Linked DNA regions of Homo sapiens: region 2 is linked to region 1. The links come from fine-mapping of genetic effects on plasma protein levels. A gene starts in region 1. The other region holds a variant in brackets. All regions are shown on one strand. Distances are from middle to middle.

Region 1 (8,482 bases):
AAACGATTCTCCCACCTCAGTCTCCCGAGAATTGTGACCACAAGCGAGTGCACCATGCCTGACTAATTTTTTCTATTTTTTGTAGAGACAGAGTCTATGTTGCCCAGGCTGATCTCAAATTCCTGGGCTCAAGTTGGCCTCCCAAAGTGCTGGGATTACGGGTGTGAACCATTGCCCGGCCTAGAACCCCAGCCTTGAACTCTCCCTAGCCTCCCGCGAGGACCCTGGTTCTAAGTCTGGTTCCAGTCAGGCCGGGAACTACCATTTCTGAGTGCCTCCAGCGTACCAGGCACCAAGCCAAGATAATCCTTGTAACAATTCCATGGGCCTTCTCCGTATCCCTCATGAGGACACGGAAGCTTCAAGAAGTAAAGTGGTTTGTTTAAGGTCACACTGCAGTTAGTGGTGGAGCTGGGAAGCAAGTAAGTGTTTGAATCCCTGTCCCCCAATCCCTGCACGCTCTCAGGGACCCAGACACTCAGGCCTCGGCTTCAGAGACCCTGTCTCCAGCCCCAAACACCCAGCCCCTGCCCTTGTTCCAGGGATCTAGGCTCTAGCCCCAGACACTCAGCCTTCAACTGCAGGACCCTGTTCCCAGACATCTAATTCCCAGTCTCAAAGACCTGGTCCCAGTTTCCCCCAACCATTCTGACCTCCTTATGGTACCTGCGGTGTAGGTAAAAGGCAGGGTTGCCAGTTCTCCTGCCCGCTCCATGAAGGCTGCAAGCCTTGGGCACCAAAATCGGTGACTCACATCATCTGGGCACCGCTGCCAGTCAGCCCGGAGACAAGCCTCTCCACAATACAAGACAGCACTACACTGGGGGCTGGGGACACAGCGGGTGGTGGGCACCTAGTGTTAACCTCTGTAGGTCCTGTCTGCTGTTCAACTGCCCAGCAGCTGCCCATATGTCACTCGGTCTGTTTGTCTTACACCCTCTAACCGCCTGTAACAGTCTGTATTGTTTCCTCTGCATCTTCTCATGTCCCTGCCTCTCCTTCTGTCTGCTAGGCGCCCCCCACCACCCTGCCTTCCTTCTATTTGCCTATTGGGGTCTTCCTCTCCCCCAGCTTTGGGGCTGCTCACCAAGGTGTCAGCTTCGCTTCAAAGCTGTGCCTGTGACACACATGGCAGGTTCGAGCACGAAGGGAAGCAAAGGTGAAGCCTGGCCGGGGACCCCATGTCCGCATTGGGGTTTTGGCTAACTTCACACCTAGCCTTGGGACCAAGCTCTCCAGCTCTCTAAATGCAGTTGGGGGGGAGATGGCATCAGGCTGGAGGAGGTGCTTGGGAATCCAGGGCCCGAGTCCTCCCCAGCCTCAGATACCAGATTTCTATACCGATGCAGCCGGGCATCTCCCACAGTAAGCTGTCGGGGCTTTCGGGGATCCCCAGAGCCCATGGGACAGGCCATGCTGTGACAGAGGAGAGCATAGGCCCAAGGAGCCAGGTCCTTGGTCCCTGAGCCCCAGCTTGCGGTTCCCTGGGCTCCATCCACTAGCAGATCAATGCCCAAGATGGTGCCATGCTCATCCGTCACAAGTAAGAGACAGGAAACGTGCAGGGGGGCAGCCTCTGGGGAAAGAGGGAAAAGTTGAGGTGGTAGGGGGCAGCGAGAGACAAATGTGGTCAGGGTCAGGAGTACCAAACTCAAATACCTACGGGGCTAGGCAAGTAACCTCACTGAGTAAAGGGCTCTGGGTAGAGAGGGCACGCTCCTTCTAAAGGGGACAGCTGCTACAGAGGACCAGAATGCGCTGCCATGCAGAAATGTAGGCCCACTGTCAGAGCTTGAGATTTTTCTTGGGAATGTGTAAATCCAGACTTCTGGATACTTTTTTTCTTGCAATGTTTAAACATTAAATTAAAAAAAAAAACCCCACTGTGGGTCAATAAAAACACCTTTTCAGGCCAGATTGGCCTGAAGGCCAGCACTCAGAACTAGTGGCAGGGGAGGGCTTCCGAAGGGAGGATGGCTGGGCAAGGGGTAGGGCAGGGCCAGCCCTGGGTTCTTACCACTCCTCTGTCCCTTCCTCTTCTGGGGTCTTGTTTCGTTCTCCACCCTGTCCTCTCGGCAGCCATCCTTGCCACCTCCTGCCTCCCGGGCAGCCTCCTCTGACTCTCCTGGAGGGTTTGTTTCCTGGGGGGACTCCCTGCTGGTAGGGGCTAGCTCCCGGTCCTCCTCTGGTTCCACCTTCTCTGTGCTGCCTGCACCCCCGTCCTCTCTCTTCTCTTCTTCTTCATCTTCCTCCTCTTCCTCCTCCCCTTCCTCCCCATCCTCTAGGCTGACAAAGCTGATGTAGGGGCTCAGGTCTCGCAGGTGGAGTGGAGGGTTGTCTCCCAGGAGCCAGGCAGTCCCCAGGCCTGGTCCAGGACCTGGTTCTGCCCCTTGCCCCAGGCTGATGCCCACACTATGGTTGGGCAGGACATGGAGCACCCAAAGGGCAGGGTCCTGGGGTAGCCTTCTGATCTGGGCCTCCAGCTGCCGGCAGCGGCCCTCAAGGCTAGTCCCTACAGCTCCACGCTCTGCCACAAACTTTCGGAACCAGCCGAAGAGAAGGGCAGTGAAATCAAGGAACTCATCCCGGTATCCAGACACAAACTCCATGTCTTCAGCGGCACAGGGCCCCGGCCCAGACTGAGCAAAAGAAGGGATATATGGTGAGGGACAGGAGAGCAATGATGGAGTTTGGGGCTGGGTCACAAATTGAGGGAGAGGGTAGGTTTGAGAGTCACTTAGGGTTGGATCCGTGGATATGCTAGGAGCGGAGAAGAGGATTTTTCAGGGCTGAGGATGGGAGTTTAGGGAGGAAAATGGGGGCTGGACTTGAAAGTGGGTGACCAGGGTTGGAGAAGACTACTCAGGGATGAGATGGTATTTGGGGCTTAAAATTGGAGAGTTCACACCCTCAAAAGCAGAGTTTAAATTAAGGCTAGAGAGGAGAGAGGGCTAATCCTATCGGGAACGGTTTGGTGGGGAGGGAAGCATTTTGGATGCGTCTGTGGGGTATGGGAGTGGGAGCGAGGGGGTTCCCTGGGCTCGGATCTGCGTGGCGGGCAGCCCCGGTAGACCTAGCCCCTCCCGGCCGCCCCACTCCTCCGGTACCTGCAGCCGCCACCACTTTTCGAAGGTAAATACCTCGCGGTGGAGGGTGCGCGGGTGCGGTTGTGACGTCAGGGCTGCCCGAGCCCTCGCCGGCTCAGCGGGCGGCCACGCCCCCCGGGCTCGGTGCGTCCGCGGGTGGCTGCCCCGCAGGTGCGCGCGGCCGGGGCTGGCGGCGACTCTCTCCACCGGGCCGCCCGGGAGGCTCATGCAGCGCGGCTGGGTCCCGCGGCGCCCGGATCGGGGAAGTGAAAGTGCCTCGGAGGAGGAGGGCCGGTCCGGCAGTGCAGCCGCCTCACAGGTCGGCGGACGGGCCAGGCGGGCGGCCTCCTGAACCGAACCGAATCGGCTCCTCGGGCCGTCGTCCTCCCGCCCCTCCTCGCCCGCCGCCGGAGTTTTCTTTCGGTTTCTTCCAAGATTCCTGGCCTTCCCTCGACGGAGCCGGGCCCAGTGCGGGGGCGCAGGGCGCGGGAGCTCCACCTCCTCGGCTTTCCCTGCGTCCAGAGGCTGGCATGGCGCGGGCCGAGTACTGAGCGCACGGTCGGGGCACAGCAGGGCCGGGGGGTGCAGCTGGCTCGCGCCTCCTCTCCGGCCGCCGTCTCCTCCGGTCCCCGGCGAAAGCCATTGAGACACCAGCTGGACGTCACGCGCCGGAGCATGTCTGGGAGTCAGAGCGAGGTGGCTCCATCCCCGCAGAGTCCGCGGAGCCCCGAGATGGGACGGGACTTGCGGCCCGGGTCCCGCGTGCTCCTGCTCCTGCTTCTGCTCCTGCTGGTGTACCTGACTCAGCCAGGTTAGCCGGGGGCGGGGCAGGGGACCCAGATTCCCCTGTCACGGGAAGGGGGTGAGTTGGGGAGGGGACACGAGGCCCACGGAGTTGAGTGGATGAAGGCAGCGGGGACAAGAGGAAAGCCAGCCAGCCGCCTGGGGTTGGGGACAGAGGCCCGGGGACGCCTGGCTCCGGGCGGGATTATGGATGTTGTCGGGGGCGTGATGATGTGTGGGTTGAGCCTGGCGCTCTGACCCTGGGTCCACCGAGAGGCTGTCATGGGGCTGTGGATTGGATGCCAGGGAACAGCGGAGTGGGGACCCTGGGCCTGGGAATGGGTGCCGACCACCTCCGTCCCGCGCAGGCAATGGCAACGAGGGCAGCGTCACTGGAAGTTGTTATTGTGGTAAAAGAATTTCTTCCGACTCCCCGCCATCGGTTCAGTTCATGAATCGTCTCCGGAAACACCTGAGAGCTTACCATCGGTGTCTATACTACACGAGGTAATTTTACCTGCCTCTGCGAGGGCAGCGCCTGGGCGGCCCCTCCTTGCAGGTGCCTCCAGGACCCTCTCTGGTCCAGCCTGAACTCCTTCCCGGCTCACCGAGCCCCATCTCCGGGTTCCGTTTGCTCTCATTCCCCGAAACTTCATGACTCCGTCTCACCTACTGGGGAGTTTCCCAGTCCCAGGAGAAAGGGCTCTTTCTTGGTGGCAACTTCACGCCTCTGGAATGAGGAAGGAGCCGGGGAAGGAAAGAAGGCGCCGCAGCTAAGCCCAGGTCTCTCCTCCGCAGGTTCCAGCTCCTTTCCTGGAGCGTGTGTGGGGGCAACAAGGACCCATGGGTTCAGGAATTGATGAGCTGTCTTGATCTCAAAGGTGAGACTTTTCCACTGCTCTTCAGGCTCTGCCTCCAGGGCTTAGCAGCTTCCACCTGACAGTTTTCTTTACCTGAGCCTTTTCCCCTGGGGCCGCACATTCCTAGAACCTTCTTCTGATCCTGTCCAAAGTACTTAGACTCGAGTCCCTGTTTGCCAAACGGGGTGATCATTCACCATCACCTTCATGAGTTTTGCCAATTCATTCTACCACGTGTGCTATTGTCTACTTATTAATATTTTTCTTGAAATCAAAGTACTATTTTATTTTATTTTTTTGAGATGGAGTCTCACTCTGTCACCCAGGCTGGAGTGCAGTGGCACGATCTTGGCTCACTGCAACCTCTGCCTCCCAGGTTCAAGAGATTCTCCTGCCTCAGCCTCCTGAGTAGCTGGGATTACAGGCGCGCACCACCAAGCCTGGCTAATTTTTGTATTTTTAGTAGAGACAGGGTTTCACCATGTTGGCCAGGCTGGTCTCGAACTCCTGGCCTTGTGATCCACCCGCCTCGGCCTCCAAAAGTGCTAGGATTACAGGCGTGAGCCACCACACCTGGCCTATTTTTCTTTTCCAATATTTTATTATGAAAATTTACACATATACAAAAGTTGAAAGAATGGCACACTGAATATCCAGTGCCTCCACCTAGATTCTACAATTTTATTTATATATGTATATTTTACATATTTACATAAACATATATTTTACACTATCAATTTTACAGCAATTACACGATATTTGCTTTATTAAGTATCCATCTATTCATTCTTCTATCCATCATCCATCACCTTATTTCTTGATGCATTTCTTTTTTTTTTTTTTTTTTTTTTTTAATGGAGTCTTGCTCTGTCGCCCAGGCTGGAGTGCAATGGTGCCCTCAGCTCACTGCAGCCTCCGCCTCCCAGGTTCAAGCAATTCTCCTGCCACAGCCTTCCGAGTAGCTGGGATTGCAGGTGCCCGCCACCATGCCCAGCTAATTTTTGTATTTTTTTAGTAGAGATGGGGTTTCACCGTGTTGGTCAGGCTGGTCTCAAACTCCTGACCTCAGGTGATCCACCTGCCTCAGCCTCCCAAAGTGCTGGGATTACAGGTGTGAACCGCAGTGCCCGGCCTCTTGATGCATTTCAAGGCAGATTGTGGACATCATTGCACTTCATCCCAAGACATTTCAGCATGTATATTAAGTAGAGTTCAATATTTTAATGCTTTTTTTTCTTTTGAGTTCAAATTTACATACAATGAAATGAATTACTTTTAAGTGTGCACAAACTAGTTTTGAAAACTTAAGTAGAGGCCAGGACGGTGGCTCACTCCTGTAATCCTAGCTCTTTGGGAGGTTGAGGCCGGTGGATCACCTGAGGTCAGGAGTTTGAGACCAGCCTGACCAACATGGTAAAACCCCATCTCTACTAAAAATACAAAATTAGCCAGGCATGGTGGCATGTGCCTGTAATTCCAGCTACTCAGGAGGTTGAGGCAGGAGAATCACTTGAACCTGGAGGCGGAGGTTGCAGTGAGCCGAGATCAGGCCATTGCACTCCAGCCTGGGCAACAAAAAAAAAGAAAGAAAACTTAAATAGTAAATTATCCTAAGCAATAATATCTGTGAAGTCACAAGTTTGATGCATTGGTTATATTTTTCTCTTAAAATAAATATACAACCATTAAAATACAAAAGGTTCTTCCATGTCCTAGCTAAAGTTTTGTAGGATCTGTGTCATCCATACTGCCTTTAAGTCTGCCTAGACCTCTATGATTTCCTTTCATCCTCCCAGGAACCCTGGCCCTTGGTACTACAATTATCCTCATTTTACAGCTGGAAGATATCACTTCCGGAGAGGTTAGGGACAAGGGGTGAGGTTACACAGCTACTTGAGGTTACACAGCTACTTTACAGCAGAGCTTGGAATCCAACCCTGGTCTTCTGATTTCCCAGTTCATGACACCCACTTGTCTCGTGGTTCGCTCACTTCCTTGTCCCCTACCTTTTCCGTCTGTCATCTGCCTTCCTCTTCTGGCCTTCAGCGTGATAACCTCCCTGACTCACTCTTCCCTCTGTTGGAGCTCAGAACATGACACTCCAAAACATGGCACCTTGGTAATTACGAAAACAGCAGAAGTAAGTAGCTCACTCTGCTCTGTTTTTCTGTGAGAGCTGGCCATAAAGGAATTCTCTAACTTCACGTGGAAGTAGGTCATAGGCTCTCATTTCAGATGGGTCCTGCCCTATACTTGGAGGCCAAGAAGAATCTGGACAGGCCTTGCTGGTCCCCCACCCCCCATTTATTGCCATTAGATCATACCCTTTTTGTCCAATCATACTTCTTTTTTTTTTTTGAGATGGAGTTTCGCTCTTGTTGCCCAGGCTGGAATGCAGTTGTGCAATCTTGGCTCACTGCAACCTCCACCTCCTGGGTTCAGGCGATTCTGCCTCAGCCTCCCATGTAGCTGGGATTACAGGCACATGACACCATGCCTGGCTAATTTTGTATTTTTAGTAGAGACTGGGTTTCTCCATGTTGGTCAGACTGGTCTCGAACTCCCGACCTCAGGTGATCCACCCACCTCAGCCTCCCAAAGTGCTGGGATTACAGGCGTGAACCACCGCGCCCGGCCAATCCAATCATACGTCTATACAGCTGTCCATTCTTCACAGCAAGCCTAAGCATAAAAATGCACTTTTCTCGGGTCTTTGTTTCTGAAGGTTCCTATGTCATGTAAAACTGTGATTAAATAAATGTTAGGCTTTTCTCTTGTTAATGTTTTTTATTTATAGGGGTATCAGCCTTGACCCTTGCGATGGGTGAGGAAAAGATATTACTTTTTCTCCCCTACACCTCTATCTGCTTTTTCACCTTGTCTCCTGATAGTCCTGATTCCTCATTTCTTTCCTTTCCAGAATGTGGACATGCTTACTCGGGGATTGTGGCCCACCAGAAGCATTTACTTCCTACCAGCCCCCCAATTTCTCAGGCCTCAGAGGGGGCATCTTCAGATATCCACACCCCTGCCCAGATGCTCCTGTCCACCTTGCAGTCCACTCAGCGCCCCACCCTCCCAGTAGGATCACTGTCCTCGGACAAAGAGCTCACTCGTCCCAATGAAACCACCATTCACACTGCGGGCCACAGTCTGGCAGCTGGGCCTGAGGCTGGGGAGAACCAGAAGCAGCCGGAAAAAAATGCTGGTCCCACAGCCAGGACATCAGCCACAGTGCCAGTCCTGTGCCTCCTGGCCATCATCTTCATCCTCACCGCAGCCCTTTCCTATGTGCTGTGCAAGAGGAGGAGGGGGCAGTCACCGCAGTCCTCTCCAGGTAAACTGGACCTTTGAACCCTCCCCCCAGGGACCCAGAGCCTTCCTGACAGGCATCCTGACCCAGTGGCTCTCAGGTGGCTGGAAACCTGGCCTTGGCACACAAGTATCAAGGTTGTCTGCACAAGGTTGACTCTGGGCCCTCTGAGGACAGTCAGTCGGGGACTGTAGACAGTGGAGAGGGAAGGAAGCCACCACAGGCACAAGGACTAGTGCTTGGAGCAACATCATGGAGAAGATGGCTAGAGCAAGCTAGTGGGAGATGAAGCTGTGGAGGGAGGTGAGGGCCAGTCATTCAATTCACAAATTTTCACTGAGCACCTACTGTGGGCCAGGTCATAGTGTTGATGTCTTCATCTGATTCCCTAGTTCAAGCTATCATCCCCCAAACACTGTCCTTGATCTCAGAGCTCATCT
Region 2 (14,920 bases), 24 kb before region 1:
AAGTGCTGGGATTACAAGCATGAGCCAAGCCACCCAGTCGACTTCTTTTTTTTTTAATTAAAAAAATGTTTTTGAGACCAGGGTCTCCCTTTGTTGCCCAGGCTGGTGTGGAGTGGATCATGGCTCCCTGCAGCCCTGACCACCTGGGCTCAAGTGATCCTCCCACCTCAGCCTCCCGAGTAGCTAGGACTATAGGTGTGTGCCACCACACCTGGCTAATGGTTTTTTGTTGTTTTTTTTTTGAGATGGAGTCTTGCTCTGTCACCCAGGCTGGAGTTTAGTGGTGTGATCTCGGCTCACTGCAACCTCTGCCTCCTGGGTCTCAGAAGCAAACAGGAGAGTGAAGGCCCCCACAGAATGAGCCCTAGCTCAAGTAGGATGTGGGAGTGCCATGAAGAGATGAGGGTAGCAGGAAGGGCTGCAGGGCTTCAGAGGGTATGCAATGAGGCTGTCACCTGGAAAGTGTCACCAGCCAGTGGCCCCTGATGCAGCCCCTCCTTGCGGCCCACTCAGACCACTACAGAAATGTGGAAAATGGAGAAAAGCCAGAATCTCTGCTATTTATAAGACAGAGGAACTGGATTGAGAAAAATACATGGAGAATTTACCTCTTGAATCAGAGGATGCCTGAAAAAGAAAATACTTTGAACCTCCCCAACTATTTGTCTCTGACTCATAGGTAATTATGATGACTGATACATTTGGTTTTGCTTCTGTTGGCATGTTTAATGCTTTAAACAACATTTCCATATTGCTTCTGATGTTTTCTGT[T/C]CCTCTTCTTTTTTGTTTTTTGAGACAGAGTTTTGCTCTTGTTGCCCAGGCTGGAGTGCAGTGGTGCGATCATGGCTCACTGCAACCTCCACCTCCCAAGTTCAAGCAATTCTCCTGCCTCAGCCTCCCGAGTAGCTGGGATTATAGGCATGCGACACCACGCCCAGCTAATTTTGTATTTTTAGTAGAGACGGGGTTTCTCCATGTTGGCCAGGCTAGTCTCGAACTCCCGACCTCAGATGATCCCCGCCTCGGCCTCCGAAAACGCTGGGATTACAGGCATGAACCACTGCGCCCAGCCTCTGTCCCTTTTCTTTAAAGATTTTACATTATCCTTTTTTTTTTTTTTTTGAGACAGGGTCTCTGTCACTCAGACTAGAGTGCCATGGTAAGATAATCATGGCTCGCTGCAGCTATGACCTCCTAGCTCAAGCTGTCTTCCCACTTCAGCTTCCTTAGTAGCCAGGATTACAGGCCCACACCACCACACTCAACTAATTTAAAAAATTTCTTTTGGCCGGGCGCAGTAGCTCACGCCTGTAATCCCAGCACTTTGGGAGGACAAGGTGGGCAGATCATGAGGTCAGGAGATCGAGACCATCCTGGCTACCGTGGTGAAACCCTGTCTCTACTAAAAATACAAAAAAAATTAGCTGGGTGTGGTGGCAGGCACCTGTAATCCCAGCTAGTCGGGAGGCTGAGGCAGGAGAATTGCTTGAACCCGGGAGATGGAGGTTGCAGTGAGCCGAGATTGCACCACTGGACTCCAGCCTGGGTGACAGAGGAAGACTCCATCTAGAAAAAAAAAAAAAAGATACAAGGAAAAGGGTCACATTGGATCCCACCCTAGATCACCTGACCCCCAGCCAACTCCTATGTGTGTATCAGTGAAATAAATGCTTATATTTATTTGACACTAAGACTTCGTCGAGGGGGATGGTTTGTTGCCCAGTAACAAGTTCCTAACACAGACCCCCTTATCTAGGCCAGGGCTGGTTGATTGAGGAACAAGTAGCTGACCCAAAGGCAGACATGTAGCCAGCGACCTGTGAGGTCTCTCGAGGTGAGAACTCCATCCAACAGAGGTACACTGACTGGATAATGACCAATCCACCGACTGGATCTTCATGATTGGGAAATGTGTCTGTGAGACAAGCTGAGACAGTCATCAGAGAGTGGGGTGGCTTCAAACTGAGAGTTGTATGCAAGAAAGAAGCAATCAAAAGCCAGAGGCAACTGACACCAGAAATAAGCAGAAGTCACAGCAAGAGAAGTGTATGGAGAATAGTTACTCTGAAACAGCGCCAGAGGGAGAAGCACAGGCACTGGAAAACTCTGGTTCCTCAGGAGGTGGCCGATGAGAGGTTGTCACCAGCACTAATGTTGAACTACCAGAGCAACTGTCATATCCCGAATAGTGGCCCTTCCAACCGTGGACCTGAAGAGGGGATTCAGCCATTGATCTGATGGACAGAGAGCAGGGCCAAGAGCTGGCCACCTATTTGTCTACAAGTTGCTCAAGCTGATTCTGAGAGATGGTGCCTCTTTTTTATTTTTTTTTAAACAGAGTTTCACTCTTATTGCCCAGGCTGCAGTGCAGTGGCGTGATCTCGGCTCACCGCCACCTCCGCCTCCCGGGTTCAGGAGACTCAAGTAGTTGGGATTACAGGTGCCCGCCACCACGCTTGGCTCATTTTTGTATTTTTTGTGGAGATGAAGACAGGGTTTCTCCATGTTGGCCAGGCTGCTCTCGAACTCCTGATCTCAGGTGATCCACCCACCTCGGTCTCCCAAAATGCTGGGATTACAGGTGTGAGCCACTGCGGCCAGCCAAATGGTGTCTGTTTTGAGGATGAATAAAGAGAAAAAAAATAGTTGTGTGGGTGGGGTGGTCCACAGGCATTCATTACATTATTTTTATACAATTCTGGATGAATGAAATAATGTTAATAATGTTAACAAAACATTATAGGGATTCTGAAAAATTTTCTCAAAACCAGGGAAGGGCAAATCAACCTGAAGACTGAAAGAAACAGAATCCTCTGGAGGAACATTTACTATAGGATTTGGAAGAGATTTCCAGGAAGATTTTTGATGACATCACTAGAATTCTCCTGGAACTAGGAACAGAATAACTTAAGAAAGAAAAGGCTGGCCGGGCGCGGTGGCTCACGCCTGTAATCCCAGCACTTTGGGAGGCCAAGCTCGGTGAATCACCTGAGGTCAGGAGTTTGAGACCAGCCTGGCCAACATGGCGAAACCCCATCTTCACAAAAAATACAAAAATTAGACAAGTGTGATGGCAGGCACCTGTAATCCCAGCTACTCAGGAGGCTGAGGCAGGAGAATCGCTTGAACCCGGGAGGTGGGGGTTGCAGTGAGCCGAGATCGCACCATTGCACCCCAGTATGGGCAACAGAGCAAGACTCCATCTCAAAAAAAAAAAAAAAAAAAAGGTCCAGGCTCAGTGGGTCACGCTTGTAATCCCAGCACTTTGGGAGGCCGAGGCGGGCAGATCACCTGAGGTCAGGAATTCGAGACCAGCCTGACCAACATGGGGAAACCCCGTCTCTACTAAAAATACAAAAATTAGCTGGGCATGGTGGCGGGTGCCTGTAATCCCCGCTACTCAGGAGGTTTAGGCAGGAGAATCGCTTGAACCCGGGAGGTGGAGATTGCAGTGAGCCAAGATCACGCCATTGCGCTTCAGCCTGGGTGACAGAGTGAGACTCTGGCTCAAAAAAAAAAAAAAAAAAATTCAGGAAACTGGCTTCTCCTAAGAACAAGAATAGAACTGGTGGAAGTGACACCACAGTTAAAACATCTGCACTAGGAGAAGACGTCACTGAGCGCAGATAGATCCACTCAGGTCAGTGGGTTGAAAGTTATACTGCACGGCAGGTAAAATATTAAAAGTCAGCTGACCATAGATTCATCCTGACAAAATATCTGAATTAAAGGATACATCTAGGCAGAATTTAAAAAGGCTACTTAGAAAGAAACAATAGTTGGTGTGGCCAGAGTCTTCTCTGAAATACTGAATGTCAGAGGACAAAGGAGTAAGGCAGCTGTGTCCACCAAAAAAGGTAGAACTATCATATACATGTCTAAGTTGCATTTTGTATGTTAAGGGCAACACAATTGCATTTCTGAGAATGTTTGGATTTCAAAATAACACTTTGGCTCCTTTTTTTTAGAGAAATTGTGTTGACTCACCAAGAGATGAAGTAAAATAAAAACCCCAAAATGGGGAAGTCTTGACGTAAGTCTAAATAAATTTCATATATCTGGTTACAAAACTGGATGCACATTTTGGAAAAAAATATTTTTCTTCTCTTTTGTTTTGAGTCAGAGTCTTGCTCTGTCATGCAGGCTGGAGTGCAGTGGCGTCATCTTGACTCTGCAACCTCAGCCTTCTGAGTTCAAGCGATTCTCCTGCCTTAGCCCCCCAAGTAGCTGGGATTACAAGCATGGGCCACCAGGCCTGGCTAATTTTTATATTTTTAGTAGAGACTAAGTTTCACCATGTTGGAGGGTGGTCTTGAACTCCTGACCTCAAGTGATCCACCTGTCTTGGCCTCCCAAAGTGCTGGGATTACAGGTATGAGCCACCACAACCCGGCCAGAGCCATTGTGCCCAGTCTCATTTTTTTTTAAAGACAGTGTCTCACTCTGTTGTCCAGACTGGTGTGCAGTGGCATGATCTTGGCTCACTGCAAACTCTATCTCCTGGGCTCAAGTGATCGTCCTGCCTCAGCCTGCCAAGTAACTGGGACTACAGATGTTCACCACCCACCATGCTTGTCTAATCTTTTTGTGTGTATATATGTAAATATATATATATATATTTTTTTTGAGACAGAGTTTCACTCTTGTTGCCCAGGCTGGAGTGCAATGGCGCAATCTCAGCTTACTGCAACTTCTGCCTCCCAGGTTCAAGCGATTCTCCTGCCTCAGCCTCCCTAGTAGCTAGGATTACAGGCATGTGCCACCACGCCCGGCTAATTTTGTATTTTTAGTAGAGACAGGGTTTCTCCATGTTGGTCAGGCTGGTCTCAAACTCCCGACCTCAGGTGATCCGCCCACTTCGGCCTCCGAAAGTGCTGGGATTACAAGTGTGAGCCACCGAGCCCAGCCATCATTTTGTATTTTTTGTAGAAATGGGGTTTCATTTTGTTGCCCAAGTGGTCTTGAACTCCTGGGCTCAAGAAATCTGCACACATAGGCTTCCCAAAGTGTTGGGATTACAGGCGTGAGCCACTGCACCTAGCCCCGTAAAAATTTCTTTTGAAGTGGCCGGGCGTGGTGGCTCACGCCTGTAATCCCAGCACTTTGGGAGGCCGAGGTAGGCGGCTCACCTGAGGTCGGGAGTTTGAGACCAGCCGGACCCACATGGAGAAACCCCATCTCTACTAAAAATACAAAATTAGCTGGACTTGGTAGCGCATGCCTGTAATCCCAGCTACTTGGGAAGGCTGAGGCAGGAGAATCGCTTGAACCTGGGAGGTGGAGATTGCAGTGAGCCAAGATCGCGCCATTGCACTCCAGCCTGGGCAAGAGCAAAACTCTGTCTCAAAAAAAAAAAAAAAAAAAAAAATTCTTTTAAAGGGCAGCTGTATAATGTAAATTCTAAAAATGATATTAATACTATTAAATATGTCATTATTGCTTGCCATACTCTGGGTCCATTGTAAGGAACTATACCAGGTAACAGAAAACCCAACTCTATTGCAACAAAAAGGGAATTTATTGGTTCAAGCAATCAAAACATCCAGTAGGACTGAAGTAGGACTAACTGCAGGTGCAGTTTGGTCCAGAAGTTCAGGATGTCATCAGTGTTCTTGTTTCTCTGCCATTCTCTCTGCTGTTCCTTTTTTTGGCTTTGACTTCCTCCTTAAGTGGGATCTTCCTCCTGACAGTAGTATTAGCTGCAGCAGTTCAGACCTTATGTCTTTACACCCTACCACCAGGAGGAAGAGAATCTCCTCGCATAGCTTTCCCTGAGTAGAGAGGAAGTTTCTTTCCCATTTACCCCAGAAAATTTCTCCTTGGTGCAGACTGGGTTCTATGTCTGTCCCTTACACGGATCACTGTGGCCAGAGGGTAGAACATGCTGTATGAGTCTGTTCTCACGCTGCTAATAAAGACATACCCGAGACTGGTACTTTATAGAGGAAAGAGGTTTAATTGACTCACAGTTTAGCATGGCTGGGGAGGCCTTAGGAAACTTACAATCATGGCGGAAGGGGAAGCAAACATGTCCTTCTTCACATGGAGGCATTCCAGCACAGGGGGTGTTGTCAATTCTGTCTAAGCCACCAGGCTGGGAAATTAAGGGCAGTATTAGGAAGGAGGAAAGACAGAATGAATGATGGGGAGGCATCCAGCGAATATCCTCTCCAGGGAATCTGTCTAAACTCTGTGGCTCCGTACTCACTGCCCATAGCTGAGTAGCACATGCTTGACCTAGTATGTGACAGAGATAGTGAGTTAGTCCCAGTCTTCTGCTTTTATTATAGTAGCAGACTTTGTAGTCTGCTGCTAAAGGCACATGGCTGCTAAGCTAGAGACTATATTTTCGGCCAAGCCCGGTGGCTCACGCCTGTAATCCCAGCACTTCGGGAGGCTGAGGCGGGTGGATCACCTGAGGTCAGGAGTTTGAGACCAGCCTGGCCAACATGGTGAAACCTCATCTCTACTAAAAATACAAAAATTAGCCAGGCGTGGTGTCTCACGTCTGTAATCCCAGCACTTTGGGAGGCCAAGGCAGGTGGATCACCTGAGGTTGGGAGTTTGAGGCCAGCCTGACCAATATGGAGAAACCCCATCTCTATAAAAATACAAAATTAGCCGGGCGTAGTGGCACATGCCTGTAATCCCAGCTACTCCGGAGGCTGAGGCAGGAGAATCGCTTGAACCTGGGAGGCGGAGGTTGCAATGAGCTGAGATCATGCCACTGCATGCACTCTAGCCTGGGCGACAGAGCGAGACCCCGTGTCAAAACAACAACAACAACAAAAAAACCCTATTTTTTCTAACTTCTTTTGTAGCTGTGGCCATGCGTTGTCACATAGTTATGGCTTATGGGAAGGAGTGTAAATGATTTGATCAACTTTGTTTCCTTTTTGTGAGAATGCTGCTAGTTGATCTTACCTTACTGCAATGTTGGTTTTAAGGCATAATGCAGATGTTTTCTGTAAGTTTTATGAGATCCCCACAACAAAGTATTCAATTTATTTATAATTTCAGCTTTTATTTTAGATTTGGGGGTACATGTGCAGGTTTGTCATAAGGGTATATTGTGTGATGTTGAGGTTTAGGAACATGATTAATCCTGTCACCCAGGTACTGAGCATAGGACCCAGTAGTTTTTTTGGTTTTTTGTTTTTTTGAGACAGCGTCTCACTTTGTCACCCAGGCTGGAGTGCAGTGGCACGATCTCGGCTCACTGCAACCTCGGCCTCCTGGGTTCAAGCGATTCTCCTGCCTCAGCCTCCCAAGTAGCTGAGATTACAGGCGCATGCCACCACATCTGACTAATTTTGGTATTTTTAGTAGAGATGGCGTTTCACCATGTTGACTAGGCTGGTCTCAAACTCCTGACCTCAGGTGATCCACCCGCCTCAGCCTCCCAAAGTGCTGGGATTACAGGCATGAGCCACCGCACCCGGCCAGAACCCAGTAGTTTTTTCAACCCTTTCCCCACTCTCTCCCTTCCCCTCTGGAGGCCCCAGTGTCAATTGTTTACATCCTTATGTCCATGTGCACCCAGTGCTTAGCTCCCACTTGTAAGTGAGAACATGCAATATTTGGTTTTCAGTTCGTGTGTTAATTGGCTTAGAATAATGGCCTCCAGCTGTATCCATATTGCTGCAAAGGACATGAATTTGTTCTTTTTTAATGGCTGCAACAATCAACTTTGGTGGTAGACTTTAAGGAATGAGCTTCCCTTTCCTCATCCTGCTGGCTGGAATGTAGGCCAGGAGTTGAACCGTTTGGACTCTTTGGTGAGGACAACCCTTAGAGATGGTGGAACAACAATATCAGGATTCTGGGCTCCCGAACAACCTAGAAGAGCAGGAGTGCCGCTGTGGGCCACCTGCCTCCTTACTATTTATTTATTTATTTATTTTGTGAGACGGAGTCTCGCTCTGTTGCCCAGGCTGGAGTGCAGTGGTGCGACCTTGGCTCACTGCAATCTCTGCCTCCTGGGTTCAAGCAATTCTCCTGCCTCAGCCTCCCAACTAGCTGGGATTGCAGGTGGGCACCACCACACCTGGCTAATTTGTGTATTTTTAGTAGAGACGGGGTTTCACCATGTTGGCCAGGCTGGTCTCGAACTCCTGACCTCAAATGACCCACTCCCCTCGGCCTCCCAAAAAGTGCTGGGATTACAGGCGTGAAGCACCGGGCCCGGCAGCCTCGTTACTATTTTGTGAGCAAGAAATAAACTTCTACTCTATTTGAGACATTGGTAATTTCAGTCTTCGTTTAAAGCAGTGGAAGTTACCAGAAATTTGTAAACTGTACCATAAGCTGAGTGTCCAGGCCAATTAGATTTGCTTTCTCCTAGGATATAAACTGGGAAAAATGGAAAATTTTCCAGTGGTTTCTAGACTTTAAATTGGTTATGAGAATACTGTGAAATTGAGTCAGTGACGTTTATTTCTTTTCTTTTCTTTTTTTTTTTTTGAGACAGAGTCTCACTCCCAGGCTGGAGTGCAGTGGTGCAATCTGGGCTCACTGCAACCTCCACCTCCCGAATTCAAGTGATTCTCCTGCCTCAGCCTCCCAAGTAGCTGGGATTACAGGCGCGCATCACCAAGCCCAGCTAATTTTTTGTATTTTTAGTAGAGATGGGGTTTCATCGTGTTGGTCAGGCTGGTCTCGAACTCCTGACCTCAGGTGATACACCCACCTCGGTCTCCCAAAGTGTTGTGATTACAGGTGTGAGCCACCTGCTTGGCCTATTTGTTAAATATTTAGCATATTTCAAATTTTTTTTTTGATACAGAATCTTACTCTGTCACGCAGGCTATAGTACAGCAGTGGTGTGATCTTGGCTCACTAAAACCTCAGCCTCCTGAGTAGTTGGGACTACAGCCATGTGTCACCACGCCTGGCTAATTTTTTGTATTTTTAGTAGAGATGGGGTTTCACCATGTTGGCCAGGCTGGTCTCGAACTTCTGGCCTCCAGTGATCTGCCCGCCTCGGCCTCCCAAAGTGCTGGGATTACAGGTGTGAGCCACTGCACCTGGCCAATCAATTCTAAGTCACGTGTTTTAGCACATTTTATTTTTCCCAAAATTAGGATATATTGTACAATCCATGGTGTCATACAACATGGTAGGTTTTGCCTACACTTGTGAGAACCCAGTCGTAGCTGTTCGTATTGTTATCACCTCAGCTGAGTTGTGAACCCTACTGGTACTACACTTCTTGAGTTGAATTGCTGTTTATAATGTCTTCAAATAACACACAGTACCAATTACATTAGCACTGTCCCAAATTAAATACTTACATATAAATCTAACAAAATACGTATAAGATCTACATGAAGAAAACTACAAAACTCTGATGAAAGACATCGAAGAAGATATAAATAAATGGAGAGAGTCCATGTTCATATATAGGAACACTCAACATTGTCAAGATGTCAGTTCTTTCCAAATTGATCTGTATCTTCAACACAATCCCAATCAAAATGCCAGAAAACCATTTCATGGATATTTACAAACTGATTCTAAAGTTTGTCTGGAGGGGCGAAAGACCCAGAATAGCCAACACAATATTGAAAGAGAGCAAAGTTGGAAGATTGACACGACCCAGCATCAAGACTTACTACAAAGCTCCAGTAGGGCTGGGCATGGTGGCTCATGCCTGTAATCCTAGTGCTTTGGGAGGGTGAAGCGGGAGGATTGCTTGAGGGCAGGAGTTGCAAGTTACAGTGAGCTGTGATTGTGCCACTGCACTCCAACCTGGGTGACAGAGCAAGACCCTGTCTCTAACAAAAACAAACAAAAGGCCAGGTGTGGTGGCTCACACCTGTAATCCCAGCACTTTAGGAGGCTGAGGTGGGTAGATCCCTTGAGCCCAAGAGTTCAACACTAGCCTGGACAACATGGTGAAACCCTGTCTCTATTAAAAAAAATAAATAAATAATAATAATAATAATAAACCAAAACCGCCGGGCGTGGTGGCTCACGCCTGTAATCCCAGCACTTTGGGAGGCTGAGGGTGGTGGATCACCTGAGGTCAGGAGTTCGAGACCAGCCTCAACATGGAGAAACCCAGACTCTACTAAAAATACAAAATTAGCTGGGCATGGTGGTGCATGCCTGTAATCCCAGATACTTGGGAGGCTGGGGCAGGAGAATCACTTGAACCTGGGAGGCGGAGGTTGTGGTGAGCCAAGATCTTGCCATTGCACTCCAGCCTGGGCAACAAGAGCGAAAGAAACTCCATCTTAAGGGAGAAAAAAAAAAAAAAGTAAAAGGCTACAAGTATATGACTTTCTGGAAAAAAACAGAACTCTGAAGACAGTGAAAAGGTCAGTGGCAGCCAGGGGTTGGTAGGGAGGGGAAGGAGGAATAAACAGAGCACAGAGGATTTTAGGGCAGTGAAACTTCTTTGTATGATACTATATATATACTGGTGCGTCATTATATATTTGTCTAAACCCATGGAACGTGCAACACCAAGAGCGAATCCTAATGTACACTATGCGATGGACTTTGGCTGATAATGACGTGTCAATGTAGTTCACTGATTGGAACAAATCTATCACTCTGGTGCCGGATGTTGATAGTGGGGGAGGCTGTGCATGTGTGGGGGTAGGAGTATAAGAAAACACTATACTTTCGGCTAGGCACAGTGGCTCATGCCTGTAATCCCAGCACTTTGAGAGGCCGAGGCGGGCGGATCACTTCAGGTCAGGAGTTCAAGGCCAGCCTGGGCAACATGGTGAAACCCCATCTCTACTAAAACTACAAAAAAAAAAAAAAAAAAAAAAAAAGAAGAAGAAGAAAAGAAAACTCTGTACTTTCTGCTCAATTTTGCTGTGAACCTAAAACTGCTTTTAAAAAATAAAGGCTATTCAGCCGGGTGCGGTGGCTCATGCCTGTAATCCCAGCACTTTGGGAGGCCGGGGCGGGCAGATCACTTGAGGTCAGGAGTTTGAGACCAGGCTGCACAACATGGCGAAACCTCATCTCTACTACAAATACAAAAATTAGCCAGGCATGGTGACGTACACCTGTAATCCCAGTTACTCCGGAGGTTGAGGCAGGAGAATTGCTTGAACCCAGGAGGCGGAGGTTGCAGTGAGCCGAGATAACACCACTGCACTCCAGCCTCGGTGACAGCAAGCGTGTCTCTAAATAAATAAATAAATAAATAAATAAATAAATGCTATTAAGAAAAAAAATCTTCAAAAAGATAACATGCTTTAAAACAGAAATCAAAAGGAAATGATGTATTAAGCATAGAAATAAAGTAGTGGAGCGAAAATTTGTTAGTGAAGACATCAATTTTGTTGACACTATTTGGTAAAACAAGAATGTGTCACTAGCTTAGAAGAAAATCTCGGAGACAGTAGTGGAGCACTTTTTAAAGAAATTCCGCTTCTCCAATGCCCTCGACAGTAGAGGGGACAGCAACACAGGCACTGATAGAAAGTGATTCAGAAGAGTCAGACTTTAAAGATTTTTTTGGAATATTTTAACCATATTATTTTTGTTTTTGTGTACGCACCAGAATTAGATTTTTTAATGGTCTGAAAGAGACTTCAATTAGCATAAAATAAAAATTGAAGTGTTAAGAAAGCATTGTATCATGGTTTGGCCGGGTGCTGTGGCTCACACCTGCAATCCCAGCACTTTGGGAGGCCGAGGCAGATGGATCACTTGAGGTCAGGAGTTTGAGACCAGCCGGACCAACATGGTGAAATGTCATCTCTCCTAAAAATACAAAAATTAGCCGGGCATGGTGGTGCACGCCTATAGTCCCAGCCACTCAGGAGACTGAGGCAGGAGGATCGCTTGAACCTAGGAGACAGAGGCTGTAGTGAGCCAAGATGATGCCACTGCACTCCAGCCTGGGCGACAGAGCCAGACTCTGTCTCAAAATAAACAAACAAACAAACAAACAAAAGCATGATGTATAACACTTGAAAGTATTTAAGTCAGTGAAATGCAGGATCGAGTACCCTCTGTGTAATGTGCCTAGTTGTGGACCCAGTGGATACAGCACTAAACTTGACAGATGAGGTACCTCTTCGTAGTTTATATTATAGTTTGGGGAGACAGGCAGTAAACTAGAAATTAGAGGTTATGCTAAATTACATGAAGGAAATAGGGTGGTGTGGTAGAGAGTGACTGGGAGGCAGCTACTGGGAGGCAGCTACTCAAGATTTGCTGGTCAGGGAATCGGAACTACCCTTAGACCTGGACAGGAGGGGCTCTTACTTGGCTGTCTGCTTAGTTCAGTACTTCTCAAACCGTAACTTCATACAGATTTCCTGAAGATGGTGTTAAAAGCAGATTCCGGGCTAGGCACGGTGGCTCATGCCTATAATGCCAGCACTTTGGGAGGCCGAGGCGGGAGGATCACCTGAGGTGGGATTGTAGAGGAGAGCAGTGGAGGGAGGGAGACCAGGAATGAGAGTGATGCTTTTCTGAGGACCCATGAATTGCCACTGAAGGTGTTTGGCAATGTGACCTGGGGAGGAGTGGGGGTTGAATGCTCTCTGAGCAAGGCAAGGCCAGAGTTATCAGCTCCTGAGAACTAAGATCGACGTGAGGACCAGATGGAGTCATTAGAAGGGAAACCATCTCAGATGATGAAGATTGTTTGAAATCAGATTTTTCCATAGAAACCCTGCAAATATAGCCCTTTGACATTTCTCTCTTCTTCCTTCTCCTAGCTCAGACTCCTGGAGATCAGGAGACCAGAACTTGTTCACCCTCCTCTACAGTGAGCAGACACTGACATGCCAGAAAAAAAAAAATGCATTTGGCTGTAATATTTGCAAGACCCAAGAAGGTACTGGGAATAAATTTATTTCCATAGAGGAAGTGGTTGGTGTTTTATGAGAAAGGGCACTCAGTCTCAAAAAAAAAAAAAAAAAAAAAGAAAAGAAAAAAAACCCCAAATAGTTAGAAATGCCGAGGGAGACTGTCAGAAATATAATAGTAGTGGGAAACTGTAATATAATTCTCTTCGACAAAGTAAGAAAAATATACAAACGTATAAAGAAACAGAGAATCTCAATGATAAAGTTGATTGATTAGTTAGCCTCTCATTCAACAAATATTTACTAAATGATATGTGCCAGGCCCTTTGCTGGATACCAGGAAGATATCAGCCATAAATACATCATCGGTGAACATCCTGAGCCTCCATCCTCCTGGAGCATGTATTCAAGTGCTATTTACTTGACTTTGTATCTCATAAATGGAGAACCTACCTTTTTCAATGCCAATAAAACATTTACAAATCTTGGTCAAATATTAGGCCGTGAAGGAGATATGAAATTCCCCAAACTTGAAATTGTACTGGACTGATACCCAGACCATAATGCAATAAACCAGAAATTTCTAAATGTTTAAGTAACAGCGACCTCTTAAAAAATCCCAAAATAGTTCTAATCAGTGAGAATATTCAAATTGCAAGTACAGATGATTATAAACAGACAATGAGATGAGGCTTGGTAGCTGATGCCTGTAATCCCAGAATTTTGGGAGGCCAAGGCAGAAGGGTTGCTTGAGGCCAGGAGTTCAAGACCAGCTTGGGCAACGCAGTGAGATCCCTGTCTCTCCAAAAAATTTTTACTTAAATTAGCCTGGCATGGTGACACACACCTGTAGTCCCAGCTACTCGGAAGGCTGAGGCAGGAGTATTGCTTGAGCCTAGGAGGTTGAGGCTGCAGTGAGCCAAGGTCACACTATGGGGCACAAATAATAACAGATTTTTAGGAGTGTGTTGCTGTTGTTGTTTTTTAAGAGACAGCATCTCGCTATGTTGCCCAGACTGGTCTTGAACTCCTGGCCTCAAGCAATCCTCCTGCCACAGCCTCCCAACATGCTGGGTTTACAGGCATGAGCCACTGCGCCCAGCCATGTTATTATTTGATAATGAACTAAGCTTGGTGTTAGGGGCTTCTCATACTTTGTTGTATATAATCCTCACAACTAACCTAGGGTAGCACCCTGCAGCTGAGTAGGCACTCAGTAAGTATTTGCTGAATGAGTGGATGTAGCTCCGAGTGAAAGTAAGTTGCCTGGCCAGGTGTGGTGGCTCGCACCTGTAATCCCAGCACTTTGGGAAGCACAGACGGGGAGGATCCCTTGAGCTAAGGAGTTCAAGACCAGCCTGGGCAACATAGGGAGACCTCTGTATTTTTTTTTTTTTAAGAGACAAAAAAAGGCCACCACACCCGACCTTTTTTTTTTTTTTTTTTTAAATAAAGTGACTTGCCTAAGACTACACAGCAGAAGTTAGTCAAGCTGGGGCTTACACTTAGGAGGCCTCTGCTTAGTTCTGTGCTTGTAACTGCGATGCTACTCGATCAACGTGGTTGTTGAAACATGCAGACAGGAAGAGCTAATGATTTAAGATGGCTTTAACCAAAACCTTTTTTTTTTTTTTTTTTTGAGACGGAGTTTCTCTCTTGTTGCCCAAGCTAGAGTGCAATGGTGCGATCTCGGCTCACTGCAGCCTCTGCCTCAGGGATTCAAGCGATTCTCCTGCCTCAGTCTCCTGAGTAGCTGGGATTACAGGCATGCACCACCATGCCTACCTAATTTTATATTTTTAGTGGAGACAGGGTTTCTCCATGTTGGTCAGGCTGGTCTCGAACTCCTGACCTCAGGGGATCCGCCTGCCTCTGCCTCCCAAAGTGCTAGGATTACAGGTGTGAGCCACCTCATCCGGCCATCAAAACCATTTTTCTGAGGCTTTTTGCTTACTTGTTTGTTACTTCTTTCTCTCTTCCCTCTCTCCTTTTCTTTCTTTCACACCAGAAAGATGTATATGGAGTACTCACTTGATACCGGGCATTGTTCCACATACTGGGGATTCAGGTGGGAGAGGTAGGCAATAGACAAGTAAACCAGCCAGGCGTGGTGGCTCACGCCTGGAATCCCAGCA

Evidence for each region. PIP is the chance, under the fine-mapping model, that this variant and not a neighbour inherited with it causes the effect. Protein levels are from antibody-based Olink assays in UK Biobank. Linkage for the fine-mapping came from a reference panel and not from the study's own genotypes, which makes the PIPs less certain.
Region 2: its variant is fine-mapped to the plasma level of the CXCL16 protein (UK Biobank, PIP above 0.99).

Annotation. Positions count from the first base shown.
Region 1 is chr17:4,734,676-4,743,157 of GRCh38, reverse strand. CXCL16 (C-X-C motif chemokine ligand 16) reads left to right here and starts at 3,230. Exons shown (of 6, transcript NM_001386809.1): 1 at 3,230-3,897; 2 at 4,238-4,376; 3 at 4,668-4,750; 4 at 7,650-8,066. The coding sequence starts at 3,819. It overlaps ZMYND15 (zinc finger MYND-type containing 15), which reads right to left and starts at 3,325. Exons shown (of 14, transcript NM_001136046.3): 1 at 3,108-3,325; 2 at 2,018-2,639; 3 at 1,342-1,576; 4 at 1,088-1,243; 5 at 667-827. The coding sequence starts at 2,609. RefSeq lists a silencer at 3,139-3,358 and enhancers at 2,907-3,811, 3,812-4,717.
Region 2 is chr17:4,755,580-4,770,499 of GRCh38, reverse strand. No RefSeq gene overlaps it. Among named protein-coding and RNA genes, the nearest start is that of TM4SF5, 8.8 kb to the left of the region's middle. RefSeq lists a silencer at 6,274-6,436. The variant T/C (reference allele first, on the strand shown) is at 772.